2 separate regions of the Homo sapiens genome follow, and region 2 is linked to region 1. The links come from fine-mapping of genetic effects on gene expression. Tissue or cell type: whole blood. Region 1 holds a variant in brackets; the other region holds the start of a gene. All regions are shown on one strand. Distances are from middle to middle.

Evidence for each region. PIP is the estimated chance that this variant, and not a neighbour inherited with it, causes the effect.
Region 2: ZNF500 starts here. The variant in region 1 is fine-mapped to the expression of ZNF500 in whole blood (TOPMed, PIP above 0.99). The same link has a PIP of 0.9 or more in spleen and thyroid.

Annotation. Positions count from the first base shown.
Region 1 is chr16:4,741,487-4,749,661 of GRCh38, forward strand. It overlaps DNAAF8 (dynein axonemal assembly factor 8), which reads left to right. Exons shown (of 10, transcript NM_139170.3): 5 at 1,557-1,674; 6 at 3,384-3,525; 7 at 4,889-5,026; 8 at 5,441-5,539; 9 at 5,857-6,148; 10 at 7,239-7,910. The coding sequence ends at 6,139. It overlaps ZNF500 (zinc finger protein 500), which reads right to left. Exons shown (of 6, transcript NM_021646.4): 6 at 6,753-8,175. Among named protein-coding and RNA genes, the nearest start is that of DNAAF8, 11 kb to the left of the region's middle. The variant C/T (reference allele first, on the strand shown) is at 4,912.
Region 2 is chr16:4,762,819-4,770,993 of GRCh38, forward strand. It overlaps ZNF500 (zinc finger protein 500), which reads right to left and starts at 4,344. Exons shown (of 6, transcript NM_021646.4): 1 at 4,199-4,344; 2 at 2,747-3,258. The coding sequence starts at 3,160. RefSeq lists a silencer at 4,091-4,390 and an enhancer at 5,583-5,662.

The sequences.
Region 1 (8,175 bases):
GTTTAATGAGATCATAAGAAACTGGGATTTTGGCCAGGTGTGATGGCTCACGCTTGTAATCCCAGCACTTTGGGAAGCCAAGGCAGGAGGAAAATCTGAGGTCAGGAGTTCGAGAGCAGCCTGGCCAACATGGTGAAACCGTGACTCTATTAACAATACAAAAATTAGCCAAGTGTGGTGGTGCGCGCCTGTAGTCCCACTATTTGGGAGGCTGAGGCAGGAGAATCGCTTGAACCCAGGAGATGGGGATCACGCCCCTGCACTCCAGTTTGGGTGACAGAGCGAGACTCCATCTCAAAAAAAAAGAAATTGGGATTTTGTAAAACACTGGGGAAAAAGAGAGGAATGCAGAGATACGCTTGTCACATTCATGTCCTAGAGGAGTTATCTTGTCTACTGGACAGAAAAGTAACCATCACACCGTCTCGGTTTTACACATTTTGGATAATTTTTCTTAACAGGTTAGAGAAAACTGGCACCAGGTATACACAGAAGTCATCTTTACTACTGTTTAAATCAACCGTTCTTTCTGCTCACCTAAAAACTTATTTTTCTCCACTTAGAGGGCTGCAAAGAGTTGAAAGGTCATATGATAAACATGAATTCTTGATTAATTTCCTCCCTCCTCCTCAGACTCACTCTGCCCCTAAGCACTCACTGCCAAGCCTTCCAGTTTTAGCTCCTGCCTGGAACAGCTTGATTCTTAAAAGAACAAAATTTTTTAACCTCCAAACATTGTGAACCTGTATGAACCTAAATAGTGTTTCTGAAAACAACACAGGGTTTGGCTGGGCTCGGTGGCTTATGCCTGTAATCACAACATTTTGGGAGACCCAGGCAGATGGATTGCTTGAGGTCAGGCATTCAAGACCAGCCTCGCCAACATGGTGAAACCCCATCTCTACTAAAAACACAAAAATTAGGCTGGGCGTGGTGGCTCACACCTGTAGTCTCAGCACTTTGGGAGGTGAAGGCGGAGGTGGAGGCAGGTGGATCACCTGAGGTCAGGTGTTTGTTCGAGACCAGCCTGGCCAACATGGTGAAACCCCATCTCTACTAAAAATACAAAAAAAAAAAAAAAAAAAATGAAGGGTGTGGTGGCGCATGCCTGTAATTCCAGCTACTTGGGAGGCTGAGGCAGGAGAATCACTTGAACCTGGGAGGTGGAGGTTGCAGTGAGCTGAGCTCGCACCACTACACTCCAGCCTGAGCGACAGAGTGAGACTCGGTCTCAAAAACAAAACAAAATGAAACAACAATACAGGGTTTCCTTCGGGTCAGACAACGTCTTTGTGCCAAAAACAAAAGTGAAGTACTGATCCCCAAGAAAGCATAGGAAGGAGGTGGCAAAGTGCAGGCCCACCTTAACGGAGGCGTTCAATCTGTAATGGAAAGGCGGGGTCAGCCTATTTGCAAACTCTGTCATGCACTGAATTCCTGATTTCTACCCCCAACATCCTGTGACCATCTCCATGGGTCACAGCAGCTGTGAAGCAGGTACTTGTGCCTCTGGGACCCCTCAGCATCCTCATAATCACTGGTTTTAATGATTTCAGCAACTTGAAGCGTGGGATTTGGATGACATCCTTCAGAGTCTGGCGGGACAAGAAGACAACCAGGGAAATCGTGCACCTGGAACTGTGTGGTGGGCAGCTGACCACCGCCAAGTTCAAGGTCTGACCTTGAACACTGGAGCCCACGTGAATCCCCACAAGCAGCACCTTCCTGGGCCCCTCAGACACAGAGGGCTGCAGGCTGGTCACAGACAGTCCTGCAGCCCACACAAGTCTTCCCTGCTGGCCCCGCCCTAAACACTCATGCTGCCAGTCCCCAAAAGACTTCATTCATTCAACATATATGTGACCGCCTGCTACGTGCCAGGCGTGGGCCAGGTCCTAGGGACAAAGGAGAGGCCTCCGCACCCCACCCCATGACCCATACCTCCTCTTCCCCACCTCCCTGGGCCAGCCTGCCTTCCTTCTCCCTCCTCCTCCTTCCTGGGGGAAGGAAGCCCCACCTTCTGTGCGCAGTCAGCTCCTAAGCACGCTCCCGCTTCCCCTGGCCTCCCCATTTAAAAAGGGAGGCAAAGGATGTCACCACTGTCACTACACTCATGGCTTTGCTCTGGGAAGTCCTGCAAATAAAATGAAAGTTCTCCAACCCCTCCCTATCCACTCGGGCCACAAAGGCGAGGGGAGGCAGGTCTGAGGCAGAGGAGCCAGGGCAGGTGCGGCGCTTCCGCCTCTGGTCCCAAAGCAAAGACTCCCCTGTGACTGACAGCCCGTGTTATGTTAAATACATTTTGTTGGTTTGTAATTCAAATCCCATAAAGCAGGAGGTAGAGAGCCAACCATTCTGGAGGACATGTGTGTGCATGTGTATGTGTGTGTGTAACTGGCACTCCCTTTGTGGAGGGGAGTAGGGCAGAATGTATTCTTTTTTTTTTTTTTTTTTTTTTTTGAGACAGAGTTTCACTCTTGTTGCCCAAACTGGAGTGCAATGGCACGATCTCGGTTCACTGCAACCTCCACCTCCCGGGTTCAAGCGATTCTCCTGCCTCAGCCTCCTGAGTTGCTGGGATTACAGGCACGTGCCACCACGCCTGGCTAATTTTTTTTGTATTTTTAGTAGAAACGGGATTTCACCATGTTAGCCAGGCTGGTCTCGAACTCCTGACCTCAGGATCCGCCTGCCTCAGCCTCCCAAAGTGCTGGGATTACAGGCGTGAGCCACCGCGCTTGGCCGAATGTATTCTCTGTTTTAAAGGCACATAACCCTTTAATCAAGCTATTGCAATTAGAAAATCTGTCTTACACTCTGACTCTAGTAGGTAAAGATGTGTGTTCAGAGCTGTTTGCTGCAGTGTTGTTTAAAAATCTGAAAAGCTGGAAACAACCCATATTCAGGAGGAGTCCAGCTAGATCGTTTTAGCACAGAATACACTGCGGCTCGATGAGGGGATCTCCGTAGGTTAACGTGGAAGCATGTAATATACAAAGTGAAAAAAGTGAAGTTGAAAAAAAACCTATAGAGGATGACCCTATTTTTTTTTTAAGTCAACACACAGAACTGTTCATTATGATCACCTGTGACAAGTGGGACCGGGGTGTGAGGAAGTGGGATAAACTTAAAAATACGTCACTCCTACTTCACCAAGCCCTTGTGCCACAGGCCCTGCTCATAAAGATTCTGCCCCCCTCAGCCCTGCTGAGCTAGAGGTGGAGTCCTCAGAGGGCTGAGTAGGGAGAGGGCTGGGCGGGGGCAGTGGAGGAGCCTGAGGTCCATTCACATGTGGAGACCCCAGGGGTCCTGAGGCTCCAGCTGCTGTAAGTCACAAGTGGGCCAAGTCCCCACTAATCAGCCTCTCCTTTGGCCATCCTCAGACCGCATGGTGCCGAGCGCCCACAACAGGCTCATGGAACAGCTGGCCCTCCTGTGCACCACGCAGTCCAAGGCCTCTGCTTGTGCCCGGAAGGTGCCTGCCGACACTCCCCAGGACACCAAAGAGGCAGATTCAGGAAGCAGGTGGGACTTGTAGCCAGGCCCGGCTCCTGTGGTCCTTTAGAATGGCCCCATGGTTTTGTAGCACTGACTGGGCCTACCAAGGGCGGGGCACTCCATGTGCATTTTCTCAGTCACTCTCAAGCATCTGATCAGGCAGTCGCTCCAGTCATCCCCATTTTAGAGATGGGGAAACCAAGGCTCAGAGAGGTTGACTCTCTCTGGCCATAAATGGCAGGGCTGGGACTCAAGCCCTCAAGTACCTGCTCTTTCCCCAAACCCAACGGGAACCCTCCTTTCAATGGGAGGCCATGAGGCCTCCCTGAGAGTAGGAAGGTTATCATGTGACCCTGCCCCTCTGGCCACAGCTGATTGGTCCAGCTCTGGGCATGTGACCCCAGCTGCGGGATTTTTCAATCTCTGTGTCTCTGTGTAGGGGTGGAAGGGCAACAGCCACCTGTCCTGCCACAGGGAGAAAGGCAAGCTGCAGTGAAGCTGGGAGAGGCAGAGGTGGAGGCAGGGCCCCAGGGTCCCGTAAGGCCCCTCTATATGCCTGCCCTCCCCACACTTTGGTTGCTCCGCACTTGAGGAATCTGAGAACCAGTGAATCCCTTTTCACCTGACCAGCAGTGGGTTTCTGTGTCTGGAAACCAAAAGTACCTAACAGAAGTGGCTACACCTGGCTGGGCGCGGTGGCTCATGCCTATAATCCCGGCACTTTGGAAGGCCGAGGCAGGCAGATCACCTGATGTCAGGAGTTCGAGACCAGCCTGGCCAACATGGTGAAACCCCATCTCTACTAAAAACACAAAAAAATTTTCCAGGCATGTTGGTGCATGCCTGTAATCCCAGCTACTTGGGAGGCTGAGGCAGGAGAAATCTCTTGAACCCAGGAGGCGGAGGTTGCAGTGACCAAGATCATGCCACTGCAGTCCAGCCTGGGCGACAGAGCAAGACTCTGTCTCAAAAAAAAAAAAAAAAAGAAAAAGAAAAAGAAATGGAGAGAACTGCAGTGTTAACCATGGCAGCCATTAGCCGTGTGTGGCTACTAAACACCTAACGTGGTGAATGTGACTGAGGAACTGAATGTTTTATGCATTGGATTTAAACTGGCTTAAATGTAAACTTAGCCACTTGTGCCAAGTGGCTACACTTACCACAGATAGAGAGCATGTCCATCATGAGGGACGTTCTGTTGGCCAGTGGTGGCCTAAATCTCGCATGCTGTTCTGAAGAGTAAAAGAGCAAATGTGTTTAATGTGCCCGTCTGTAGAGAGTGGGCACTCACTGGGTGGCAGCCACGAGCACTGTGACTGGACAAACCCAGCGCAGGTCACAGAGTTATCACAGAGAACTGACTCCACAACACCTGCTTTTCTCATTTCAGATGTGCCTCAAGGAAGCAGGGCT[C/T]CCAGGCTGGGCCAGGCCCGCAGCTGGCCCAGGGCATGAGGCTTAACGCAGAGTCCCCCACCATCTTTATTGACCTGCGGCAGATGGAGCTACCAGACCACCTGTCCCCAGAAAGGTCCGGAGGGCAGTGACTACCCCATACCAGCCTCTACTTTGCAGAGTTGCCTGTTGACCGCACAGAGCCTCTGGTGGATCCTGATGGGGAGGAACAGGGACTTCAAAAGGCTTGGATCAATTCTCAATTGAAAAGTGCTGGCCTACAGTCCCCCTGGGTCCCTGCAGGGAGGGAAGAGGGGCATGAGGCACACCTCCTCGGGCTGGGCTCTATGCAATAGAGCCCAACACGTCTAGGCTGGAGGGCATCACCCACACCTGTCCTCACCTCCTGGCAGGACGTCCACCGGCCTCCAGTGTGGCTGCTGACCTCTTGCATTGGGTCACCAGCAAAGCCCGAGTGCTTCAAGCCCCAACAAGAGTTGGAACACCAGGTGGAGTGGGCACATCCAGAAACCCATTTCTCTCCCTGCAGCTCCAGCCACAGCTCCTCTGACAGTGAGGAGGAGGAGGAGGAAGAGATGGCAGCTCTGGGAGACGCAGAGGGGGCATCTCCTTCCTCCCTGGGGCTACGGTAACCACCCAGGGGCCTCTCGCCACCTGCAGATGTCCCACCTCTGCTTTCTGCAGCAAGCCCTCCACCTGGCACATTTACCGCCTGTGGTGAGGTCTTGCTGCACCCACCGCACAGGGTGAGGGGGACGGCACAGCTTTCATCATCCTGCCCACGTCCACTGGGTCCCAGCAGTGGCAGCAGTGATGGGCTGCCTGAATTGCATTCTTGCTCTGAAATGGGAGCTGGGCTCATCTGCTTTTCTCCTGTTTCAGTAAGGAGGGCTGGGAGGGGCGGCCCCCACGGGGTTGAGTGAATTTGGTCTCATTGTGTCACAGGACCTGTACCGGGAAAAGCCAGCTTCTCCAGCAGCTCAGGGCCTTTCAGAAGGGGACAGCCCAGCCCGAGCTGCCTGCCAGCAAGGGGCCCGCGGGTGGGAGGGCTCAGGCCCCTGAAGACACAGCTGGATCACGAACTGGGAGGAAGCAACACATGAAGCTCTGTGCCAAGGGGCAGAGCGCCCAGGCTCGACTCCCAAGAGGCAGGCCCAGAGCCCTGGGGGATGTTCCTGAGCCAGGGGCAGCCAGGGAGGCCCTGATGCCTCCTCTGGAGCAACTATAGCTGCCTCAGGTAGTGGGATCCCAGGAGTGGGCAGGGGCGGGCTGACTTGCCATGGACCCTGGGCCCCGGTGTCCCCTTGTTGTTCCTGCATTTCCACTAGCAGGGGCATTCCAGAGGCAGGGACCCTCAGACTTTGGACTGTTGCCCACCCTGTTAGAGCTCAGTCACAGGTGCATGAACTTAGAGGAAGGATGCAGATACAAATCTGTATGTAACCTGTGACAACAGCTTTGGGATAAAGGGGCCTGGTCCTCTGAGGGAGATGGGCAGGGACAGCAGGAGGACGGGGTGCTGCTCTCTGCGGGACTCTGAGGCTCTTCATCTTTCTCCAGTTCTGCATTTTTTTAAACAGGCATCTATTATTTCCATCAATAAGGTCTTTTTAAAAACCAAGTAAAACGTATTTAGAGGATTTTAGGGTTGAAAGAGACCTAAGCCTTATTTTCTGGCTTCCTGCATACTTGCTATTTTGGGCACCTAAATTAACACACGACACACACATGCCTACCCACACAGATCTAATACACGTGGTTTTTTCTCTTTTCGAGACGCAGCAGCTGGGACTACAGGTGCACACCACCATGTCCAGCTAATTTTTTTTTTTTTTTTTTTTGTAGAGATGGGGTCTCACGGTGTTGCCCAGGTTGGTCTGGAACTCCTCTCAATCCTCCTGCCTAGGCCTTCCACAGTGCTGGGATTATAGCACTGTGAGCTGCCAGCCTGGCTTTTAATGAACTTTTTGAAAGAGGAGTAACGAGAATTTGCTTTCTCTTTCTCTTCTTTACCTAAGATAGAAAGGCACACATAGATTCTCAAGGCCTTTGACCTTTATGAATCTAGACAGAATACTGGAAACCCCTGGAAATGCTGTCCTGTGTAGAATGGAGCAGCGGCCTCACTTGTTGATCACCAGCAAAAACTGGGGACATCTGCTTGCCCCCTGCCAAGACCCGGCCCCTCCACAGGACAAGCCTGGTCTTCCTGGGTCCTGTTCCTTTGCCAGCACCGTCTTGCAGCCCCGTCTTCACGGGATGCTTTTGTAACTGCTGTGATCAGCCCTGACCTGGGCACCTGTTTGTCTCCCCAACCTTGTCTCCAGGATGTGTCCTGCTGTCTGCCCCGTGGGAAGAGCAGAGAAATCATCACCACCTTGGGCCCCACGGTGCCACGGGCTCAGGCAGCACAGTAGGGCGCCGGGCCTTTGGGACAGTGTCCCAGCTTCCCCTGGGGTTCACCCCTGGCTGCCAGGCCACTGAGGATGGGCAGGGGTCTCTTCTCATCAAGCCTTGTACCAGGCAAAAGACAGGCCCTGCTTGGCCGTGGTCACTGGCCGCCAAGATCAGGGCTACAGATGTCTGCTCTCTGGACCCCACGTGATCTGGCCACTGGGGACCCCCACCCGACCCCACTCCCAATGATGAGGGGCATTTTCATTGCAAGTCAAAGGCAAGACAGGCTTCCATAAAGTCCCAGGAGGTCCCTCCTGTAGGGCACAAGGCCAGGCTGCCTCCCAGCCCCCAGGCCCTCTCCCACCTACAGAGACCCTCCCCTGCCCCCTCCACTCCGGGGCCTGTGCCGCCAGAACCGGGCTCTGCCCCCATACGCTGCCCTCGCAGCCTGGCGGCCTCCGCTGTGGCTGCCTAGCTGTCAAGAGCAAAGGCTTTTTTTTTCTTCAACCCCATTTTCTTCCATTTCTCCCACCTTTTTAATGCCAGTAACCTCACTGAGAATGTTTTACAGTGATGGAAAATAAACTCTGTTCCAAGTTCAACTCTGAATTACTGTGTCTGTCAAGGCAAGGGGAGTGAGGTAGGAAGTCAGACCTGCGTCCAAAGCTGGCTCTGCCACCTGGGCAAGGTTTTCACGCTCCCAGTGCCCAGTTCCTCCACCCACAGAAGGAGAATCATGGCCGGGCGCGGTGGCTCACGCCTGTAATCCCAGCACTTTGGGAGGCCGAGGTGGGTGGATCACAAGGTCGGGAGTTCAAGACCAGCCTGACCAACATGGAGAAACCCCATCTCTACTAAAAATACAAA
Region 2 (8,175 bases), 21 kb after region 1:
GGCCCCACACCCCTCATCTCAGGCACCCCAGCCGGCTGCCCACCCCCGGGCTGTCTGCAGCCTCCCTCCCTCTGCCCAGCCGTGTGGCAGTGTTCCCTGCAGCCAGCTCCCAGCCTGCTCTACTCCATGGTCTCTCCCTGTCACCACAATCGTTTCCCCATCACATTCTTACCCTCTATTCCTTGGTCCTCCTGATAGACCCTGGGATAGACCCTGGGCCAGAAGAGCCCTGAGTCAGCGCTGGACTAATTTCAGAAGTTCACAGAACTGCATTTGCTAGATTTTTTGAAATTATCTGGCCAGCTGCAATGGCTCACACCTGTAATTCCAGCACTTTGGGAGGCCGAGGTGGGTGGATCACCTGAGGCCAGGAGTTCGAGACCAGCCTAACCAACATGGTGAAACCCCATCTCTACTAAAAATACAAAAATTAGCCAGGCATGGTGGCAGCACGCTTGTAATCCCAGGTACTTGGGAGGCTGAGGCAGGAGAATCGCTTGAACTCGGGAAGTACAGGTTGCAGTGAGCCGAGATCGTGCCACTGCACTCCAGCCTGGGCAAAAGAGCGAGACTCCATCTCAGGGAAGAAAAAAAAAAAAAGAAAAAAAAAAGAAATTATCAACAGGTGCTCTGAGATGATCTATTTCCTAATTCCAGGAAAGGTGAGTTGAATGAAATTGGGTCTTAGAATTGAGCTCTGCAATAGCACTTGGACAAGAGACATCCCTAGGCAACTACAAACCCAGCGTCAGGGACCCATCTCAGGCTTCCTCTTATTCAACATTCCACACCTCTAAGGGAGCGTAGTCCCCTTGGGGAGCACAGCCTGCCCCTCTCAGCTCAGTGATGGCCATGAGGCATGTGTGCAGAGGTGTCGGTGCAGTGACAGAAGGAAGCCATGCCGGGAACCCCAAACACTGAAGCTGTGGTGGCCAGGAAAGAGGCTGGCCGGCTGGGAAGAAACCCCGATTTCTTGGCCACCCCGATGGCAGGATTTTCTGACTGCGGTCAGCTCACGCCGTGGTCAAGCATTAGGGGATGTGCCTCCTCTGTTGGCTGCAAAAGGCCAGCAGTGTGCAGCCAGCAGCACTGCCACAGGAAGAAAGGCAGCTGGTCAGCACTGCCCATGTGCCCCATCCACGCAAGGCCCTGAAAAATGAACTGAAACAGCAGGTGGCAGGACTTCTTTCTAATCTCAAGGAGTTCCACAACTGAAACTGAAGCAGCAGGAATGAGTAAGAGGCTTCCTCTACTCCTTCAAATGGGGCTGGAAGGAGGTGGAGAGGCACTGTCTATAGAGATTTCGGTGTGTCAGAAGGGTCCTGTCTGTGCCATCCAGTACAGTAGCCACTGGCCATGTGTGACGACTGAGCCCTTGAGAGGTGGTCAGTGTGACTGAGGAACTAATTTAACATTCTACACAGTGGCCGGGCACAGTGGCTCATGCCTGTAATCCCAGCACTTTGGGAGGCCAAGGCAGGCAGATCACTTGAGGCCAGGAGTTTGAGACCAGCCTAGCCAACATTGCAAAACCCTGTCTCTACTAAAAATACAAAAATCAGCCTGGCGTGGTGGCAGATCCCTGTAATGCCAGCTACTTGGGAGGCTGAGGCACGAGAATCACTCCAGCCTGGGCGACAGAGAGAGACTCTGTCTCACAAAAATAAAAGTAAAATAAATGGGCTAGGTGCGGTGGCTCACGCCTGTAATCCCAGCACTTTGGGAGGCCAAGGCAGGTGAATCACGAGGTCAGGAGATCCAGACCACCCTGGCTAACACGGTGAAACCCTGTCTCTACTAAAAATACAAAAAAATTAGCCGGGCGTGGTGGTGGGCGCCTGTAGTCCCAGCTGCTGAGGAGGCTGAGGCAGGAGAATGGCGTGAATCCGGGAGGCGGAGCTTGCAGTGAGCCGAGATTGCGCCACTGCTCTCCAGCCTGGGCGACAGGGCGAGACTCCATCTCAAAAAAAAAGAAAAAAAAAAAAAAAGTAAAATAAATGTACATAGCTATAATTTAAAAAGCTACATGTGGCTGGCAGCTACTGTTTTGCATGGCACAGCTCTAGAACCTCTGGGGGCTCTAACCAAAGTGCCCCCCATGCCCCTGGTCTTTCTTCCCAGTGTTCTCCCACTTTGGGGGTAGTTTCAACTCCCTGCCTTGGAAGGTGCCGGACCTCTCTCCCACCAAAACCTATGTTTGGGGCTGGCGTAGTGGCTCATGCCTGTAATCCCAGCACTTCGGGAGGCCAAGATGGGAGGATCACTTGAGGCCAGGAGTTCAAGACCAGTCTGGGCAACATAACGAAACCCTGTCTCTACAAAAAATACACAAAATTAGCAGGTGTAGTGGTGCATGCCTGTAGTCCCAGCTACTCAATAGGCTGAGGTGGGAGGATTGCTTGAAGCCTGGAGGTAGAGGCTGCAATGAGCGGTGATCACACCACCATAGCCTGGGCAACAGAGCGAGACTATGTCTCAAAAAAAAAAACATGTTTGGCCTACCCTAGGACAGTGTTCACAAACCATCTGCACTAGCTAATAAAGGGCTATTGGGGTAGGATGAGGTTAATCAAAGGGTGGACACCCATTAGCCAAGGCTGAGAAATCTTTTGCAGTTGCTTTCCTCAAAAGGGCTCAGGGGCCAGGCAGCCACACTTGGTCACCCAATGACCAAGGAATCTGCAGCTGCAGACCCCAGCAGCAGGGCCCCATTTCCTCACCTGAGGGTCAAAATGCCCCCACTCACCCGCTGCCTGTGTTTCCTGGGCTTCCGCTGCAGCCCTTCCACAAGGACCACGGCCTCCTCACCGCTCTCCGGCTGCTGCTCGCGTACCCGAGCCTGGATCTCCCCCGGCAGCACAGTCAGGAACTGCTCCAGCACCAGCAGCTCCAGGATCTGCTCCTTGGTGCGCAGCTCCGGCCGCAGCCAGCGGCAGCACAGCTCCCAGAGGCGGCTCAGGGCCTCCCGGGGCCCAGCCACCTCCTGGTAGCAGAAGAGCCGGAAGAGCTGGCGGAAAGTCTCAGGGCTGGGGTCCTCCGTCTCCACGGAGGGCTCCTCTTCCAAGCAGAAGTCCTCCTCCACCTTCACAATCAGGATCTCTTCCTGTTCCAGGTCCTGCTCCAAGGTTGGCAGGGGCTGGAGGCCAGGGACAGTGGCCATTGCTTCCGGTGGGCCTTGTTCCTTTTCAGGCCTTAGAGTTGAACCTGTCTCTCTCTATACCTCTGGCCAGACACAGGAAGAGAGTTTTTTTCAGGGCCCTGTGGAGAGACGATAAAACCATCTGAAGGGCAGCCCTGGGGCTGGATAAGCCCTTTGGCCTGGGAAGCCCCTGCCCTGGTTCCAAGGCCAGCTCACCCCACCATGGAAAAGGAAAAGGAAGTGGATGAATGTCATCTTTGTTATTAACCCCCTGTTAATTCCCGGGTAATTTACTGAAGGGCTCTGGGCTTTGCTTCCTCACTGGGCAAACAGAGATGATAACAGGACCTACACACACAGGTTGCTGACAGAACTAAAAGGGATGGCTGGGGGCAGTAGCTGACGCCTGTAATCCCCGCACTTTGGGAGGCAGAGGAGGGCAGATCACGTGAGTTCAGGAGTTGACCACCTGGTCAACGTGGTGGAACCCTGTCTCTACAAAAAATACAAAAATTAGCCCGACATGGTGGTAGCACATCTGTAATCCCAGCAACTCGGGAGGCTGAGACAGGAGAATCGCTTGAACCCGGGAGATGGAGGTTGCAGTGAACTGAGATAGCGCCACTGCACTCCAGCCTGGGCGACAGAGAGAGACTCAAACAAAAACAATCTAAAAGGGATGTTTGCGGTCAGAGCTCGAGAATCGTTATTTTCCATGATTAGAGTGGGTCCTATATGGAAGGGGTTCCTTTGGAAATCTGATGAAAAGTAGGGCCTTTCTGCAGACTCTGCCTCAACTTGATCCCCGGTGTCCAGGTCTGGCGAACCCTGAAGCCCCTACGCGGCCCCGTCAGGCACCCCCGCGTGGGTGGTCACGACAGCCCCCCAATTCCAGGGTCCTGGGAGAGCTGGGACCCCCAGGCCGGGCTGCTTTCCCGTCTCATCCCTCAGGTGGAGGGTGAGCGGTACCCGAGGCCGCGGCACAGACCCGGGTGCTGGCGCGGGCCGCGAAATCGAAGCTTCGGCCGGGACCCGCGTCCCCGCGCCCCCCGCACTCACTGGAAGCGCTGCCGGCCGTGGGCAGTTCGGGGCAGGACCGGAGCGGCGGGTCTCGGCGGGAGTAGGACTGCGGGCCTCAGGCTTGGCAGCCAGGGACGCCAGAGCCGGGGCCGAAGACCCTAAACCAGGGGTGCAAACCAGGCCGTGCGGGTGGGCCCGCAGGCGGCATTGTGGGTAACGTAGCCGTGGCACCATTGGCTAAGCCGGCCGTTGGGGGCGTGGCAACACGGCCGAGTGGGCGGGTCCGCGACGTGCACTGTGGTTAATGTGGTCCTCAAAGGCACGCATTGTGGGTAACGTAGTCCAGCACCTCGGTGACCGCGCGAGCGTGCGGCGACTCTGCAGCCTCTGGGCTACTTTCCCAGTCACTGTTCCACACCCGCTCCGCTCTCCTCTGGCCGCCTCCTCCATCTTTAAAGCCAGCAAAGTCGTCCGGGCACGGTGGCTCACACCTGTAATCCTAGCACTTTGGGAGGCCGACGCGGGCGGATCACCTGAGGTCGGGAGTTCGAGACCAGCCTGACTAACGTGGAGAAACCTGGGCGTGGTGGTTCATGCCTGTAATCCTAGCTACTCAGGAGGCTAAGGCGCAGGTTGCAGTGAGCCGACATCCTGCCATTGTCCTCCAGCCTGGGCAACAAGAGCGAAACTCCATCTCAAAAAATAAATAAATAAATAATAAATAAATAAAATAAATAAAGGCAGAAGTTGTTCAAGATAAAACTGGAAGAGATGCCAAGTGCTTGCGCCCACCCTCCCCCAAGAGGGCCCCCAACAACGTCCAACCCCAAATATCCCTTGTCCTGCCTGCTTCTTTCTGACAACATAATAATGGGCATCAATCTTTGTTGTTGTTGTTAGAGATGAAGTCCCACCATGGTGCCTAGGCTGGTCTCAAACTCCTGGGCCCAAGCAATCTTCCCGCCTCAGCTTCCCAAAGTGTCAGGATTACAGGTGTGCCCAGCCAGGTATCAATTCTTGTATGTATGTATTTATTTATTTAGAGACAGGGTCTCACTCTGTCGCCCAGGCTAGAGTGCAGTGGCTCGACCTTGGCTCACAGCAACCTCCGCCGCCCGGTTTTAAGCAATTCTCCTACCTAACCTCCCGAATAGTTGGGATTACAGGCACGAACCACCAGGTCCGGCTAATTTTTGTATTTTTAGTAGAGATGGGGTTTCCCCATGTTGCCCAGGCTGGTCTCCAACGGCCTCAAGCAATCCACCCACGTCAGCCTCCCAAAGTGCTGAGATTACAGGAGTAAGCCACCGCTCCCGGTCGCATCAATTCTTGAGCATCAAGCAAGCAAAACACATTTGTACTTCGTTTCTTCCTCATTTAGTAATAGAGGTACTATAACTAGACCTACCGGTTCAACAAAACAAAACAAAACCCTGAAGCTCTGAGAGTTTTAAGTATTGAACCCCCCAGAGAAGGTCAAACAGGAAGTACAGAAATGGGATTGGAACCCAAATCTTTGATTCCAGAACTTCAGCTCCTAACTACCAGGTTAACGTAGTTTGCCCCTAATCCTAACTTGGGCATCCTAAGGCCCGTCTCCTATGCTGGATTCTCGCTGCTTTTCCTCTTTGGTTGAACATGATCCGGAGTTTCCCTCTGCCTGGGGTGCCCAGGAAAGAGTCCCAGCACCGAGTTCGGGTGAGCAGCAACGCAGCATACACAGCAGGCGTACACTCAACGTACGCCCCGCCCCGCACAAGCTCCGCCCCGCATGCGCGCCCCGCCTCGCATCCCGGATCTACCCCCGGAATCTCGCGCGTCTTTCCCAAAGCATCGGCTAGGACTCAGCCCGCCGGAAACAAATTTGGGGACGCCGGATTCAGGAAGCTGGCAGGACTACATTTCCCAGAGCGCCCCGCGCCCTCCCCGGAGGCAGATTCCTGGGCGCTCTAGAGGGGGTGGGTTGGCGGCCTGGAGGGTCTCCTCAAGTGGCGGCACTGCCAGGGGCTCGGAGGAAGGGGCTGCAGTCTCCCGGTGGCAGCGTCCTTGTCGTCGAGACTGCGGGCGGTTCCCTTGCGCGCCCTGAACCTCAGTTTCCATATCTGTTAATGGGGGACATTAACCCTCAAGGTTGTAACTCATTCAAGACCATTCATCCAGGCATAATAAATGCATAAACGCTGCACGTTGAGTCCTCCCAACTGCCCCCTTAACTAGGCGCTCGGGTGATGGAGTGGTGGCAGGTGCCTGCTTTCATGGAGCTTGCCATGAGAGGCATACAGTGGACAAAATTACCATGAGAGGCATACAGTGGACAAAATTGCACGAAGAATTGTTTAATCACTTCTTTGGCAAATGTTAGCAAGCGGCGTAAAAGAGGGAACCTGATACCTTCAGGGTGGAAGTGACAGTTGAGCAGCCTAGGGTTAACCTGGGGAACCGGTGGGGAGGATTCCAGACAGCAGGAGTGAAAAGTGCAAAGGTCCTGGGGCCGGAGAGAACACGGTGCGTTTGAGGAACAGAATGGAGACCAGAGATTGGGAGATGTGGCTGGAGGGATGGGCAAGGCCTGACCATACTTGGAGACTCTGGTGAGGATTAAGGATTTTATCCTTGGAGTCAATAGAGTTTGGGGTTTTAAGTAGGATAGCATCGTGATCAGATAAGAAGCTTTGTGGAGTACAGATCTCAGAAAGACTGGAGAGGAGCAGTGAGACTAGCTGGAAGCTCCTGGAGTGGTCCAGAGTTGGGGTAACTAGTGATGGTGGTAGTCACTGACAAGGATCTGGCCAAGATTCCTGGAGCACATTCAACAGTGCTTGGTGGTTGATTAGCTTGGGGTGGAGGAGGGAGACAAGGATAACTCCTTTGTACAATGGGGATGGTAACATCACCTGCAGTAGGCACCATTATGGTAAAGAGACAGAACAGAACGTCAGACACATATAGGCTTAATATGTCCTAATTCTGTTAGTAATAAAGACTACCTCTGTGTTCAGGGCAGTGTTGTTTGTAATGGCAAAACCGAAAACAGTCTAAATGTTAGTCAACAGGAGAATGATGGATAAATCTCACGGAGGCTATGCCAAACAAAAAAAGGCAAGTGGCAATATGATACAATTTTCATAAATTTTGAAAATGCAAAACAATTCTACATATGATTTAGAGACATGTATGCGGTTCAAAGAAATGTTTGGGACTTGGATGAACACCAAATTCAGGATGGTGATGGGGCAAACGTTGAAGAGGGATGTGATGGGGGGAAGGTTCAGGGGGCAAAAACTGCAAGTTTTAATGTGCTTTTTATTTATTTTTAATTTATATATTTATATTTTTATATTTATTTATATTTTTTTATTTATTTTTACTTATTTTATTTTTTTTTGAGACAGACTCTCACTGTTGCCCAGGCTGGAGTGCAGTGGCGCAATCTGGGCTCACTGAGACCTCCGCCTCCTGAGTTCAAGCGATTCTCCTGCCTCAGCCTCCCAAGTACCTGGGATTACAGGCATGCACCACCACACCCAGCTAATTTTCGTATTTTCAGTAGAGACGGGTCTTCACCATGTTGGCCAGGCTGGTCTTGAACTCCTGATCTCAGGTGATCCACCCTCCTTGGCCTCCCAAAGTGCTGGAATTATCAGGTGTGAGCCACCGCGCCTGGCCATTAATGTGCTTTTTAAAAACAACAACAAAAGCCATTATTTTGAATTTGTATTCATGAAGTATTAAAACCTACCAAATGTTTTAATAAATAATCTTAAATAGGCCAGGTGCGGTGGCTCACGCCTGTAATCACAGCACTTTGGGAGGCCGAAGCAGGCAGATCACTTGAGGTCAGGAGTTCAAGACCAGCCTGGCCAACATGGCAAAACCCCGTCTCTATTAAAAATACAAAAAATTAGCCAGGCATAGTGGCACACACCTGTAATCCCAGCTACTAGGGAGGCTGAGGTAGAAGAACAGCTTGAACCAGGGAGGCGGAGGTTGCAGTGAGCCAAGATTGCACCACTGCA